2 separate regions of the Homo sapiens genome follow, and region 2 is linked to region 1. Evidence: fine-mapped expression QTL. A gene starts in region 1. The other region holds a variant in brackets. All regions are shown on one strand. Distances are from middle to middle. Region 1 holds the start of FBP1 (fructose-bisphosphatase 1). Region 2 holds the start of FBP2 (fructose-bisphosphatase 2).

What was found. PIP is the estimated chance that this variant, and not a neighbour inherited with it, causes the effect.
Region 2: its variant is fine-mapped to the expression of FBP1 in naive CD8 T cells (Schmiedel 2018, PIP 0.95).

Annotation. Positions count from the first base shown.
Region 1 is chr9:94,634,563-94,642,895 of GRCh38, reverse strand. FBP1 (fructose-bisphosphatase 1) reads left to right here and starts at 3,378. Exons shown (of 7, transcript NM_000507.4): 1 at 3,378-3,755. The coding sequence starts at 3,586. RefSeq lists a silencer at 3,245-3,304.
Region 2 is chr9:94,593,268-94,601,600 of GRCh38, reverse strand. FBP2 (fructose-bisphosphatase 2) reads left to right here and starts at 7,777. Exons shown (of 7, transcript NM_003837.4): 1 at 7,777-8,044. The coding sequence starts at 7,875. The variant TTG/G (reference allele first, on the strand shown) is at 4,741.

The DNA.
Region 1 (8,333 bases):
CCCTATGAGGTGGCTACAATCATTAGCCCCAGTTTACAGATGAGCCAATGGTTGCTTGGTGAGGTTTAGCCAATTGCACAGGCTTGCACAGCCAGTAAGTGGCCAGGCCAGGGTTTGGACCCAAGCCATGCAGCCCCAGAGTCTGTGCACTTCACCACAATGCGACGTGGCCTAGTCCCAAGGGGAATGGCTTGCCTTGTAGGCAATGAGCTGCCCATCATCGTGGGTGACAAGCAGAAGTGACTGAGCTAGACAGGGGTCTCCTCCACGTATTCAGTGTGTCCCCTGTGTGTAGCTCTGAGCTAAGCACTCTGCCAATGCCATCTCATTTCAGCCCGATGACACCACTGCCAGATGGAACCATTATTCCACTATATGGATGAACAAACTGGGTTTACAGAGATTAGGTAACTGGTCCGAGATCTCTGGCTGCTGAGGGCTGGAGCTGGGACTCAAACAAGTTTGCTTAATGCAGATCCCAAGCTCTTCACCTCTTATCAGGGATGGTGTCCAATGAGGGTTGGCTGGACTAGATGACTTTTACGGTCCTAGCCAATCCAAGATCCTGAGGGACTGAGAGTCTGGCAAGTAAAGGGGCACACTCCCCTAGTTACTAGCTCTAGCTCTCCCCTAGTAACTAGTTACTATGCCAAAAATACTAGTCATCACATTTCAGTTCTTTTTTTTTTTTTTGAGATTGAATCTCGCTCTGTTGCCCAGGCTGGAGTGCAGCGGCAGGATCTTGACTCACTGCAACTTCTGTCTCCCGGGTTCAAGCGATTCTCCTGCCTCAGCCTCCTGAGTAGCTGGAATTACAGGTGCACACCACCATGCCCGGCTAATTTTTTATTTTAGTAGAGATGGGTTTCACCATGTTGGCCAGGCTGGTCTTGAACTCCTGACCTCAAGATCTGCCCGCCTCAGCCTCCAGTTTGTTTGTTTTTCTTTTTTTTTTTTTTTTTTGAGATGGAGTTTTGTTCTTGATGCCCAGGCTGGACTGCAATGGTGCCATCTCTGCTCACTGCAATCTCCGCCTCCCAGGTTCAAGCGATTCTCCTGCCTCAGCCTCCTGAGTAGCTGGAATTACAGGCATGCACCACCATGCCCAGCTAATTTTTGTACTTTTAGTAGAGACGGGGTTTCTCCATGTTGGTCAGGCTGGTCTCGAGCTCCCAACCTCAGGTGATCTGCCCGCCTCGGCCTCCCAAAGTGAAGTGCTGGGATTACAGGTGTGAGCCAGTGAGCCGGGCCTATTTGAGTTTTTATGTTTAAGGATGTATTTCTCTTACTATTTTTTTTAACACAGGGTTTTTCCTGAAAAGTTGCCTGAGGAACAAAGAGTTAAATAAGACCCTTAAAGGATCAACTCTCTTTGCCAGGCATCTAAGTCCCCTCTGGGGCTTTGAGGAGACAGTCGCTGTCTTTCCTGGTGGTACCACCACCTTCCTTCATTCAACGCCGCCGCATCTGACAACCCTGGGCACAGGAATCTGCACCCCAGGTCTCCACGGTGAATCCAGCAGTCAATTTTCAGAGCTTGTCCTGCCTGCCCCATCCACACCGCTTGGCACATGGGTCAGCCCGCCTTTACTTACCTTCTTCATCTGGCTTCCCGGATGTCACATCTCTTGGTTTTTGGTTGGTTTTTCCAGTTGGCTTTTCCAATTTATACCTGCAGCATGGATCTCTCCTCTGAACTCCAGATACATAAATCTGTCTATTTGACATTGCCTTGGATGTCTAGAAGGCATTTCAAACTTAGCAGGTCCCACACTTAGCTCCTAATTGTCAGTCCTGCCTCCAGCACACGCCCCTCTCGGTGTTCCCCATCGCAGTCGAGGACAACTGCATTCTTCTAGTTTCTCAGGCCTCAAACCTTAGAATCATCCGAGACTCCTGTCTCTCACATATCTCATCTGTCAACGAATCCCATCAGCTCTACCTTCAAAATATGTCCAGAATCCACCACCTCCACTGCTAACACCTGGCTCACTATCTCCTAGTAACCTGGAGGGCACTGTCTTCAGTCTGATCTTCACACAGTAGCCGCAGTATGAAGACACAGGGTAGACCATGCCTCTCTTCTTCTCCAAACTCTCCAGTGGGTTCCTCCTAGTCAAAGTCAAACCTCACTTGGCCCTCTAGACCTCACCTCTGCATCCTCCCGCTGGCCTTATCTCCTCCACCTCTGACCCTTGCTAGCTCTATTTCAGCTCCACCGGTCTCCTGGCCATTCCCTGAACCTGAAACATGGTCTCCTACCCCAGGGCCTGTGCACTGGCTCTCCCGGTGAGGAAACCGCTCTCCTTCCCATCTCCACCGGCGCGTTGCATCCTTCACCTCTTTGCTCACATATCCCTTTCTCAGAGAAGCTTTTACTGAGGCCTCTGCTCACCCTCTTCTCCCCTCCACATTCCGTGTCTTCCTTTTCTATTTCGTTTCTCTCTATGGTACTTATGGCTTATGTAACAAACTAATCTATTGTTTATATATTTATTTTTACTGTTTCTCTGTGAAAACGTACACTCGAAAAGGGCAGGAGTTTTGTCTGTTTGGATCAGGCTCCACCCCTGGAAGGTAGGACAGTGTTCAGCACAGCAGGTGCTCAATAGGTGTTGTTTCGTGAATCAGCACATCAATTGCAGCATTGTGGCTACCAGGGGGTCAGGATGCGGGCGGTGGAGCCCTCTGGCCTTTGTGTGGTAGCCGAGGACTCTGTGTCAGCGACCGTTTTCCGGGAAACTTCCGGGCGAGACTCACATCTTGGAAATTCAAATACTCAATAGCTCTCGAATTCTAGGAATCTTGAGAAGAGGCCTGGATTAAGGATTCAGACGTGGGCCCTCAGATGGGTGAGAAACGGGGACTCTGTGTCTCCTAGCGGGGACAGAAGGGCCAGGTGACAGGCCAGGCAGAGTGGACGGGGCTTGGGCAGGGGGCGGGGGCAGGCAGCCACACGGGGCAGGAGCTGCAGAGCTAAAGCCAGGCCATGTGGACTGGCTGCGGGTTTCGCTGCCTAGCTGGTGGCATTGAGCAAGTTACTTAACCTTTCTGAACTTCCGTTTTATGATTTTGGAGGAAACAGTCATAGCTTTCTCTCTGGCAGAGTCCGATGGCCCGAGTCCCGCTCCACAGTGCGGGTGGAGGGCACGGAGGGGTGTGTGTGGGGGGCGACAGCCCAGGAAGACTAGGGGGCGGCAGGGCGCGTGGGGGCGGGGGTTGGGAGACCGCAGGGAGGATCCCCGACCTTGTCTGAAGATCCAAGCAGGCGGAGCCGCGGTCTGGTCCGCGGGGTAGGCGGGGCGCAAGAGTGTTCCCGGGGGCGGGGGGCCGACCCGCGTCTAAAGGTTTCCGCGATTCACCCGCCGGCGCCTGGCCTGGCCCAGTTGCACCACGAGCGCTGCGGACACTCGGGGCGGCAGTCGGTCTGTCAGTCCTCCCGCCAGGTCCCGCGGCCCGCACCTGCCGCCCGCACCTGCAGCTCCGCACCTGCGGCCAGTGCCTACTGCCCTCTCTTGCCGCCCGCACCTGCAGCCCCGCACCTGCCGCTTGCACCTGCAGCCCCGCGCTCTACCCGGTTCAAGCATGGCTGACCAGGCGCCCTTCGACACGGACGTCAACACCCTGACCCGCTTCGTCATGGAGGAGGGCAGGAAGGCCCGCGGCACGGGCGAGTTGACCCAGCTGCTCAACTCGCTCTGCACAGCAGTCAAAGCCATCTCTTCGGCGGTGCGCAAGGCGGGCATCGCGCACCTGTGAGTCGGGCCTTGGGCGGTGGGCCCCGTCCTGTCTGTCTGCCTGGGGAGCCTGCCCGGCGGGCTGACGTTGGGCCCTCTGAGCCTCCTGCCGTCAGCCTCTGTCTGTCCGTCTGATGTCTGAGCGCCTCTCTCGCTCTCTGTCTGGTAGCCCCTCTCTCCAGAAGCTGGCTCAGCCTCACTCAAGTCCTCATCTCCTCCCTTGACCTTGGAGGGGCCCACCTGGGGGTCCGTCTCACAGGTGTACACCTGATTCCATCTTGCATTCCTCTTCTCTGCCCTGAGCAGCCTGCCTCGTACCCCTCTCAGCCGGCCAAGTGTGGGCACCTGGCCTGCCCGTCATACCCGCCCTAGCCTCAGACAGGAAAGTGCTAGCTCAGGTGCCTTCCTTCCCCATTTCTTCTTTGTCCTCCTTCACTCTTTCTGCAATTAGGGACCCAAGTCAGGTTTCTAATCCAGTTATCTCTGACCTGAAACAAGACCTGTTAGGAGCGAGTGTCCCCCCCGCCCCCCCCGCAAGCAGGCTGGGAGGTCTCCTGTGTGTCCAGAGCCTTTAGGAGCAGCAGGGCTTGTGTGCAAAGGAGCTCCCGTGGGCTGCCCCTTGCTGGGACAGTTGCCATGCTGTGCCAGAAACAGGAAACACCCAGGGCTTCAAAACCCCTATCGATTTGCAATGATGGTGTGTGCAGCCTCTGCCCAATTAGTGGAAAGCTCAAAAGTGGTTTGTAGAATGGTTCTGAATGCGCTATGGAGTGCATCTCGAACGTCACTGGGCACAGGAATCATTTGGGGATCTTGGTAAGATGTGTGCCCTCCTTCCATAGCTCTGGGACAGGTCCTGAGATTCTGCATTTCTAAGAAGTTCTCCTGTGGTGGGTGCTGCCCATCAGATACTGTTTGTCTACTCATCACATTGTGAGTAGCAAGGGGTCAAGTGGAGTGGAGACTCAAAGGACCCCTTCTTGTGAGGTTTTTTGTAAGTCACACAACATCCTTTCGTTTGTGTTGGTGTGCACAGGTATTTTCTTTTTCTTTTCTTTTTTTTTTTTTTTTTGAGATGGAATTTTGCTCTTGTTGCCCAGGCTGGAGTGCAATGGTGCGATCTTGGCTCACCGCAACCTCTGCCTCCCAGGTTCAAGCGATTCTCCTGCCTCAGTCTCCCGAGTAGCTGGGATTACAGGCATGTGCCACCATGCCCAGCTAATTTTGTAATTTTTTTTAGTAGAAACGGGGTTTCTCCATGTTGGTCAGGCTGGTCTCGAACTCCCGACCTCCGGTGATGCCTTGGCCTCCCAAAGTGCTGGGATTACAGGCATGAGCCGCCGTGCGCAGGTATTTTCTAGCTAACTGATCCACACTTTTAACTGAAGTGTAACTGGGTTTTCAGATTGTCCATACACTTTACTAACATTCCCCGCACTTATGCACACTATAAAAATGACACATGATGGGCTGGGCGCGTAGGCTCTAGCCTGTCATCCCAGCACTTTGGGAGGCCGAAACAGGTGGATTGCCTGAGGTCAGGAGTTCAAGACCAACCTGATCAACATGGTGAAACCCCGTCTCTACCAAAAATTAGCTGGGTGTGGTGGCAGGCGCCTGTAATCCCAGCTACTCGGGAGGCTGAGGAAGGAGAATTGCTTGAACCCAGGAGGCAGAGGTTGCAGTGAGCCGAGATCGCATCATTGCACTCCAGCCTGCGCGACAAGAGCGTGACTTTGTCTTAAAAAAAAAAAAAAAAGACGCATGATGCTCAGAGCTGACCTGAACAAATACAACCCTGCTACTTGGGTTTGGAATGCATTTCTCCATTCTTAAAAACTCTTCTCCGCCCCGCATCCTGCAATCTAGATTCCTTTTCTTACTGGCAGGCTGTCTGGCTTTGGTCCCACAGTATGGACTGGTGGAGGTAATTCATGTAAAGGAGTGGTATGATCACATTTATTTTTGAATATTAAGCAGACATGTTAAGGAAGGTGATGACTCCATTACTGTTGCCTCTGGCCCCTCTTAATAATACATTCCTAAGGATTCTTATTTTAGAAACATACCCAGGTGAAATCTTAAGCTTTAATTTACAGCTAGTATAGGTGGCTCACAGCTTTAACTGCCTTTGAGGACCAGGGATATATTTTAAAAAGAGGGCTTGTCGACTGGGTGTGGTGGCTCACACCTGTAATCCCAGCACTTTGGGAGGCTGAGACGGGTAGATCACTCAAAGTCCAGGTGTTTGAGACCAGCCTGGCCAACATGGTGAAACCCTGTCTCTACTAAAAACACAAAAATTAGCCAGGCATGGTGGCAGGCGCCTGTAATCCCAGCTACTTGGGAGGCTGAGGCAGGAGAATTGCTTGAACCCGGGAGGCGGAGGTTGCAGTGAGCCCAGATCGTGCCACTCTACTCCAGCCTGGCGACCGAGTAAGACTCTGTCTCAAAAAAAGAAAAAAAAGGGCTTGTCATGTCTGATATTGTTTAAAAAATGTGTCAGTACCTTTCACACCCCTAGAGAGACTGAGAAATGTAAGATGTGTTTTGAGGTGTCCCACTGTCTAAGTAACCTTAGACAGTGGGACCTTGGATAGTGAGATTTTGATGGTGGGGCCTGGATGAAGCATGTTAATTTTGGCTACGTAAGGTATGCGTTTTATTTATTTATTTATTTTGAGATAGAGTCGCACTCTGTTGCCCAGGCTGGAGTGCAGTGGTGTGATAATGGCTCACTGCAGCCTCAACCTCCCAGGCTGAATTGGTGCTCCCACCTCAGCCTCCCCTGTAGCTGGGACTACAGGCATGTGCCACCATGCCGGATAATTTTTGTGTTTTTGTAGAGATGGGGTTTTGTTATGTTGCCCAGGCTGGTCTCAAATTCCTGGGCTCAAGCGATCTGCCCACCTTGGCCTCCCAAAATGCTGGGATTACAGGTATGAGCCACTGTGCCTGGCCAATATGTGTACTTTTATACTAGATAGTTGTGAATACCAGGTTTTAAAGAAATACTATGTTGCACTCATTGACAAAAATTTAAACCATTCAAAAGAATTCAAGGGAAGAGTGAAACCCACCCCATATATATCCCATGGGGTATCCACTGCAAATAATTTACTGCTTATTTTTCCGGATACTCTTTTACAGTCATATAAGTTTACACATGAACACATATTTACATATGCCTATAATAGCAGACAAAATGGGATCACAATACACATTTCTGTAGTTTGCTTTGTTATTTAACATTATTCAAGAAACATCCATTAATATCGGGACATCTACATCTACCTCCTTTTAACTGCTGTGTGCTGCTCCCCTGCACACATCATGAGGTATTGAAGTTTTTCTCTATTTTGGGGCACTTTGGTTTTTACTAGCCTTTGGGTATTACAGTGCTGTACCCTTGGAACTGGTGTGCATGCCTGGTTGTTGGGGTAGCTGACAGGACTAGATGCTGGACACTGAGGTGATCTTGTGGGAAGTTCAGCGTTTGGCCATTTTCAGTATCACATGTCATCAGGCAGGTAGCATGATTCTCAAGCCAGGCCCCCAACCTACATTCATTCCAGGCATTGAAATCCAGAAAGAAAAACCAGCATTCCTGCAAAGATCTTGTTAGTGCTGAAGACCGGACCTAGAAGAGCATGTACCCAGAGGGACGGGGTGATTGCAGATTTGCAGGAACCTCACTGGAGCCAGTTTAGGGAGCTCACCCAGGATCATTATGGAAACATCAGGAGTTTAAGCACAGAGCCTGGTGTAACCTAAAGTTGCTATTGTAGTCACTTTCATTGCTCCTGTTAAAATGTTCATGGAATCATTGAGTTTTAGACTGAAAGAGACTCAACAGTCAGCTAGTCTATCACCTCCTCATACAGAAGAGGACCCTGAGACCGAGGAAGATGAGATGACTTGGCCTGTGGCCGGGATCTCAGGAACCCCGGATTGGAGGTCTTTTGGCCACACTACACATCTCTTCCTTTATTTTTTAGAAATCAATTAGAATTCACCAAACTCTAAATCTCATCTATTAGTTAACTGGTTTTTTTTTTTTTTTTTTTTTTTTGAGACAGGGCCTCACTCTCACTCAGGCTGGTGTGCAGTGGTGCAATCTCAGCTTACTGCAACCTCTGCCTCCCGGGTTCAAGTGATTCTCCTGCCTCAATTTCCCGAGTAGCTGAGATTACAGGCGTACACTACCATACCTGGCTAATTTTTGTATTTTTAGTAGAGATGGGATTTTGCCAAGTTGACCAGGGTCGAACTGGCCTCAAGTGATCCACCTGCCTCGGCCTCCCAAAGTGCTGGGATTAGAAGTGTGAGCCACTGCGCCCGGCCTAATTTTTGTATTTTTAGTAGAGACAGGGTTTAGCCATGTTGGCCAGGCGACATTTTTGATGTGAATTCAGGCTTAGATACCAAGGAGTCATTGCTTTGGGCAAATGTGCCCTGGGAGACTTCCCTCTGGGCTTCTGGCTCCCTCCATCCACTCTTGGGAGAGAAACTGTGCAGATCAGAACAGTCTGCAACTTGAAGTCAAGCTGATGAAGTTGTGGTTCAAATGTCAAATTCGAGTGTTGTCCACTTTGC
Region 2 (8,333 bases), 41 kb after region 1:
GGGCGTGGTGGCGGGCGCCTGTAGTCCCAGCTACTCAGGAGGCTGAGGCAGGAGAATGGCATGAACCCGGGAGGCAGAGCTTGCAGTGAGCCGAGATCACACCACTGCACTGCAGCCTGGGCGACAGAGCGAGACTCGTCTCAAAAAAAAAAAAAAAAAAAGAAAAAAGAATGAGGGTCTTTGCAGATCTAATTAAAGTAAGGATTAAGATGAGATGAGCCTAGATTACCTACATTAGGATGGGTCCTCCTCTGAAGCCATGCATTTTTGTACAGGTTCATGACATGGCAGGAGCCTGGAGGCCTAAGCCACCGCCATGTCGATGTCAGCCTGGGACCAGAAGGAGAGACAAACCTTTGCTGTGCTAAGCCGTGGGGATTTCAGGTTTATTTGTTGCTGCACGATAACATACGCTATCCTGACTAAACTAGACCAAGCTTGGCAATATTTTTAACCTCTCTGAGTCTCCCTTTCTTCATTTGCAAAATGTTAATTGTAATATCTATTGTAGTCAAGGCCATTTTCATCGTAGGTAACAGAAACCCATTTATTCTGCTAAAGCAGAAAGGCAATTTGTTGGAAAGCTTCAGGGGACTCTCATGAAACCTAGCACCCACTGCTTTCCTAACCCCGAGGACACACCCTTAGTCCGTCCTGGCATTGTCAGCCAATCCACTGTGTCTCCATGTCTCACACCAAGTTCCCCGGAGAAAAAAACCTGACGTCTTAGCTTGTGTCCAGTTAGCTGCAGCCATAGACCCGGGTCATATAAGACAAACGTGGCCTTGGGTTTTCTTTTTATGGGCAGGGCACGCCTCTCTCTTAGATGGGGATCGTGGGCTGAGCAGATACCCTAAAGGGTCTGCCGTGCTGGAAGCAGAAATGCTGAGGTTTCATGAAAGAGCGTTTGTTGAGATCACTGGAGACGGGGCATGGAAGGCATTCTAACAGAGTTTTGCTAACAGAGAATATGCTCTCAGCTAGTACTGTAGAGTCACAGTCCAGATCCTAGACTTCAGGTGGGGGCCCCGCCCTATGAACTGCCCTAAGACTGCCTTACTGTTCAGAGACTCTGTTTGTCCTTACTACTTCCGCCCAGGCCTGTGAGGGCCTTTCACCAAGCACAGCAAGCCCATAAATAGCTCTGTGATCACCAATGCATCAGTGGCGCTGAAAAAAGCGTGAGCTGGACGCTGCCCCCCCCTTCCTCTGGGCCTTCCAGATGCCCCGTGTGTCCACGCTGTTGTGTGCCCTGAAAGAACTTTGGCATTTGCTGAAAGGTCACCAGCTGCAATTTCAGATCATGTAGGTAACTCGAACTTCCAACATTTAAATGTAGCTGAAAGGGGCATGACAGCTGCACAGGTGCCAGCCTGGGCTGGAGGGTGGCAGAAATAGCAGGCCCTCCCTTGGATCCCTTTACGGGGGGAGCTGACTTATACATGGCACTGGCCAATCCCCCTCCCTCCTGATCCCCAAATTATCCAGGCTTCTGCTCATCCTTGACACCCACAGTGCCGGACAACCGGCGCCTCTCCAGAGATCTGCTCATAACACTGGCTTGTTTGTTTCACTTCCAATCTGTTGTGAACAGATATGTTAATAAAACATAATAAGCCGAGCGCAGTGGCTCACGCCTATAATCCCAGCACTTTGGGAGGCCAAGACAGGCTTATCACCTGAGGTCAGGAGTTTGAGACCAGCCTGCCCAATATCATGAAACCCCATCTCTACTAAAAATACAAAAGGTAGCCAGGCATGGTGGTGCGTGCCTGTAGTCCCAGCTACTCGTGAGCTGAGATGGGAGAATCACTTGAACCTGGAAGATGGAGGTTGCAGTGAGCCGAGATCGTGCCACGGCACTCCAGTCTGGGCAACACAGCGAGACTCTGTCTCAAAAAACAAAACAAACAAAAAGCATAATAAAAATAATTACAGGAGTGGCTAATAAGCACCTGCTCAACATCACTAATCATTAGGAAGATGCAACTACTCTAAGCCACAGTGAGATACCACCTCACACCCATTGGGATGGTTACTGTAAAAACAAACAAACAGAAAATAACAAGTGCTGGCAATAAGGTGGAGACCCTGGGACTCTTGCTCACTGCTGGGGAGTGTGAAATGGTGCAGCCGCTGTGGAAAATGGTGCAGCAGTTCCTCCAGAAATTAGACAGACAATTACCATATGATCCTGCAGGTCCACCTCTGGGCACATCCCCGAGAGAATCAAAAGCAGGGCCTTGAACAGATGTTTGCACGCTGTGCTCATGGCAGCATTACTCACACTAGCCCAGAGGTGGAGGCAACCCAAGCGGCCATAGAGGATGAATGGGTGAACAGACTGTGGCGTGTCCATACCAGGGAATGCTGTTGAGCCTCAGAGAGGAGGGAACTCTGACCCATGCCACAGCATGCGGGGATGGTGAGGACATTGTGCTGAGTGAAATAAGCCAGTCGCAGCAGGACAGATACTGTATGGTCTATGAGGGACCCAGTGTAGCCAAATTCATAGAGACAGCAGAATGGCGGGTGCCAGGGACTAGGTGTTGGGAGGGGGAATGGGGAGTTCTTGTTTAATGGGTACAGAATTTCAGTTTGCAAAATTTGAAATTGGGATTATGACTATAATTGGGGTCTAGAACTGTTCTATCATGCAAACCCCCATTGCCCTGTCCCCTCCCCACACCCCTACCCCTGGCAGCCATGAGAGTTATCTGTCCCCACAGGTTTGCATTCTGGAGAGTCCCCTACAAATGGAATGAGACTGTAGATACTCGCTGGAGACCACTGCTGTCACTCAGCACAATGCCTCTGAGACTCGCCTAAGTGCCACACGTGACACTAGTGTTTGTGTTGTTAATAGTATTCCATTGTGGCCGGGCGCAGTGGCTCATGCCTTTAATCCCAGCACTTTGGGAGGCCGAGGCGGGCGGATCACGAGGTCAGGAGATTGAGACCATCCTGGCTAATACGGTGAAACCCCGTCTCTACTAAAAATACAAAAACAAAATTAGCCGGGCGTGGTGGCAGGTGCCTGTTGTCCCAGCTACTCAGGAGGCTGAGGCAGGAGAATGGCGTGAACCCGGGAGGCCGAGGTCATGCCACTGCACCCCAGCCTGGGCAACAGAGCGAGACTCCGCCTCAAAAAAAATAGTATTCCGTTGTATGGCTCTCCCAGTGTGTTTACCCATTCACTGTTAAGGAGATTTTGGGTGTTTGCAGTTTCTAGTTTAACTAGAACTGCTATAAACATCTGTGTGTGGGTTTTTGTGTGAATACACATTTTCAGCATTGTTTTGCGCCATCACAGGGGAAACCTTCTTTTTTTTTGTTTTGAGACAGAGTCTTGCTCTGTCGCCCAGGCTGGAGTGCAGTGGCACAATCTCAGCTCACTGCGAGCTCTGCCTCCTGGGTTCACGCCATTCTCCTGCCTCAGCCTCCCGAGTAGCTGGGACTACAGGTGCCCGCCACCATGCCCGGCTAATTTTTTTCTGTGTTTTTAGTAGAGATGCGTGTTAGCCAGGATGGTCTTGATCTCCTGACCTCGTGATCTGCCTGCTTCGGCCTCCCAAAGTGCTGGGATTACAGGTGTGAGCCACCGTGCCCAGCCGGAGACCTTCTTAATCAGATAACATTAGCTTCAAAATGAAACCTGAAAACTAATCAACCAGGCCTCCGTCTTCACCCTGCAGTCATTTACTGGACCAGAACTTGGAAGATCCAGCCACTCTATTTCTGTAGTGATGTCAAAGGAATCATCATTGGTTTCCCCATGTGAAAGGCAAAGCTTATTTGTTAATGGCAACATGACGTGTTAGGATCAAGGAAAGGTCCATTCCGCAGTTTTCACAATTCCCAGAGCTCTTGGGAAAGGAAGAGTTTTCCAAGTTTGATCCTCATGATATCAAAATTAAAATGTTCTTACCCAAAAAATGATAACTCCTGTTATTAGCTTATTATTATTATTAAACTGATACTGAGTGTCAGATGGGGTGAACAGATTAATACAAAGTGGCATCTCTATTTAGATGAGTCTTTCATTAAACAGGAACACACAGAGTAAAACACACTGGAATGGCCCTTTCTCCAGCTTCCAATAGGGAAGTTGGATTGATTATTATGTTGGCAGTGGAGCACCTTCCAGAAGAAACATGAGCTAGAAATGATACCCAAGTCTTTACCTTACCCTTAGCAACTGACAGAAGTGAAGCCATTGCAGAAGGCTCTCTTGCTAATAACTTTTTTTCCCCAGCATATTTCTCAATGTGACAGTATTGTTCTGAATGATGAAGGCAACCACTTTTCATTTGGATTCAGAAACACTTGGAAGCAGTGATAATATGTCTTTTCTTTTCTTCTTCTTCTTTTTTTTTTTTTTGAGATGGAGTCTCACTCTGTTGTCCAGGCTGGAGTGCAATGGTGCGATCTCGGCTCGCTGCAACCTTCGCCTCCCAGGTTCAAGCAATTCTCCTGCCTCAGCCTCCTAAGGAGCTAGGACTACAGGTGCACACCACCATGCCCAGCTAGTTTTTTGTATTTTTAGTAGAGATGGAGTTTCTCCACGTTAGCCAGTATGGTCTCGATCTCCTGACCTCGTGATCCGCCTGCCTTGGCCTCCCAAAGTGCTGGGATTACAGGTGTGAGTCACTGCACCTGGCCGAAAATGTGTGTTTTTAAAACTAAGTGAAGATAATACAGTTAGGGATCATGAAGTCTAATCCCATTTTTTTTTTTTTT[TTG/G]AGACAGACTCTCAATGTCACCCAGGCTGCAGTGCAGTGGTGCCATCTTGGCTCACGGCAACCTCTGCCTCCCAGGTTCAAGTGATCCTCCCACCTCAGCCTCCTGAGTAGCTGGGACTACAGGTGCACGCCACTACACTGGCTAATTTTTGTATTTTTTTTATAGAGATGGGGTTTCACCATGTTGGCCAGGCTGGTCTTGAACTCCTGGGCTCAAGTGATCCCCCTGCCTTGGCCTCCCAAAGTGCTGGGATTACAGGTGTGAGCCACTGTGCTCAGCTGGATCTCATTTTTAAATTGAGGCATCTGAGTCCCGGAGGGCTTTGATTCCCGGCCCAGGCTTCTTTCCTTTGGGTATAGATTTAGCAATACTCTGGTCTGACCCAGGCAGATGTTCTTGTTTTATTATACATAGCGATCTCTCTTGTTAGAACTCAATTCTAAGCTCATGTCTTATTCTATGTTCTAATTGTGTTAACAGGCATATGTGCATTGTCGTGTATGGTGCTCAGTCATCTAGGGAGGAGGAGCATCCTAGAATGGGAGAAAGTATCATATAAGAGAAAGAACGCTAACCTCAGGTAGCTCTGGGCTGAGATTCTAGCTAGTAGCTGTGTTATCCCTAGGAAGCCCTAGTTTCCTCATCTGTAAAAATAGCACTACTGGATCAAATAATTGGGTGGATTAATGTGTGCCACATACTGAGATAGAGGTGTCATCTGTCTCCATCTATCCATTCACCTCAGTGTTGAAAGTTGAAATAGATTGAATGAAAATCACAAAAAGGGTATGGGATCCTGTATTTGTTCTATTAAGAGGTAGCATATTTCTTGGTAAGTGAAGATAGACCCCCCCACACCCCCGCGAAAAGAATTAGAACATTGTCACATAGCAGTTCCTCTTCTGGGGTTGTATCTTACTGAAGCACTTGCCCCAATATAAGGATGTTTGTTGCATTACTATTTGAGGAGCCAACTTACCTAAATTATCTGAATGTCCGCAAGCTGGAATGATCCAAGCCTCTGTGTGCTGACTTGGACATCTTCCCATAATATTTGCTTTCTGGAACTAAAAACATATATAAATAACATATATATATATTTGGGATCTTAAACCTGCATATTAAGATCTACTGGTAGATGTTAGTTTTATCTGAAAGTTTCCACATAAATTGTGAGCACCAATGCCCATCTCAACCATTTGGTTGCCCTCCTCAACCAGTTTGGTTGATCCAATGCCAGCGCCCAGCTCCCACTGCAGGCATCACCACACGACCCTGATCTGGCAGACGCTGTGCACAGGGACGTCTACGGGGGTGGGAGGATGGGTTCCAGGGAAACTGTTCTTTCTTAATAAAAAGGAACTGATGTGGTTGGAGCTGCCCTTGCTCCCCTCTTTGCATCTTCAACGTGGGCCAGATGTTCAGAACTGCAGTGACATTTTGTGCCCCCAGGATGCCAAGCAAGGGGCACAATCCAGCCGACCAAGGATGACAGAGACGAGACAGAGAGGGGTCCCAGTGGAACCAAGAACAGCTGAATGAACACCAGCCACCACCTCCTAGTGCACTCCTGGTCTATGAGGAAATAAACCCCCACGTGTAAATTGCTCTAGTTGTTCTATTTCTTGCAGCTGAACACATTCTAATCGACATAACTGTCAGGGGAAAAGACCTTCAGAGAAATGTGCATGTTGTACTGTTTTGTGAAATGAGATTATGTATGATTGCACAATAGTTGTGAGCACATTGAAAGACTGGAAGGGCGGCTGGGCGTGATGGCTCACGCCTGTAATCCCAGCACTTTGGGAGGCCGAGGCGGGCGGATCACGAGGTCAGGAAATCGAGACCATCCTGGCTAACACGGTGAAACCCCGTCTCTACTAAAAATACAAAAAATTAGCCAAGCGTCGTGGCAGGCGCCTGTAGTCCCAGCTACTCGGGAGGCTGAGGCAGGAGAATAGCGTGAACCTGGAAGGCGGAGCTTGCAGTGAGCCGAGATCACGCCACTGCACTCCAGCCTGGGCGACAGAGTGAGACTCCATCTCAAAAAAAAAAAAAAAAAAAAAAAAAAAAACTGGAAGGGCAATAATAGGTAACAAAGTACTGAGCACCTACTATACTAGGTACATCTCATTGCAGCCACTCTATAAGATGGATGCTTCACGGTTATGCTCATTTAAGAGTGAGACAACTGAGGTTCCAAGGGGTTTAATAACTTTCTCAAATCATGCAACCAACAGATAGCTAGCTTGGGACTCACAGCCAGGTCTGGCTGGCCCTAGAGAAAGTGCTTCCACCACCATATGCACCCCACCAGTGCCTACTGGCTGCACAGACCGCCACCAGCCCTAGCAGCAGTGATTTCTGGAGAGTGGGATGGGAGAATGGGCTGGTGGTGAGGAGGTTTGTCTTTATCCACTTCTTTAGTGTTTCCTTTTTAACAAGCAATTTTTGTTACAAAAGTGGACATCCAGAGATATTGACAAAATAACACTGGTGCCAGGAACTGTGCTAGGAATATAATAGTTTTCTTCCGGATCTGGATCTCTACTGTGGATATCCACTGGTCATACATGCCTACTGGAAATAAAAAGCATTCTTTCCTAACTTATTCCAAACCCTGGCTAAAGGAATTCTGGGGTTGCCATTATGTTACTATGTGACCTACGTCCCAGATAAGGAACCTGCGAATCTGCCACCTCCGCCCTCGGGAGAGCCAGGCCCTGCAGTCACTATATGTGAAGAATCCTTTGGAGCCTGGAATAAGAGGGTTTTATGCATCATTTTTTAATCAACTGGATTTCTCACCTCCCACCTGTGCCTAAATGGTGGCTTCTTGGTATCTTGAAAGGGGGTGCTCAGCAGGAGAAAGCAGCTCCATGTTTCTGGGCAGCCCGTCCTATTTACAGACTGCTGCGGCTCCCTGGCAGCTGCCACAGTCCCCGAGGCCAGAGGGAGTTCCTTGAGGGCCCCAGCAGTTGTTTGAGTCATGTGTTTTGGGCCCTTTTCCTTAGAGATCCTGGCAGGGCCAGCACAGATTTCTTATCGGCTTCCACACTGCGGAGCTGCAGCCCTCAGAAGTAAGCAAGGTTTCCTGCCGGGAGAAAAGGATTTGAAGCATTCCAGCCAAAATGACGGACAGAAGCCCCTTCGAAACCGACATGCTCACCCTGACCCGCTACGTTATGGAAAAGGGGCGTCAGGCCAAAGGGACTGGGGAGCTCACCCAGCTGCTGAACTCAATGCTGACGGCCATCAAAGCCATCTCCTCGGCTGTGCGCAAGGCCGGTCTGGCCCACCTGTGAGTCCTGGGGAGCAGGCATGGGGCACAGAGCACCCCAGGCCCAGGCAGGGGTGTGGGAGCTGCAGGTGCTTTGGCAAGAAACTGGGTCCAAAGCTTATTGGCCCTGTGTGCCCTAGATGGAAGCTGCATTTCAAGTTCCTATCATGTGTGCTTTGATAAAGGGGCCTTTGACTTGTTTTGAGAAAGGAACGAAAACATGCTATGAAGAAATACACATATAATTTTTCCAGTTATTATAATGATACCAAGTGCAGTGGCTTGTTGCATTAAAATATGTATTGTGTTA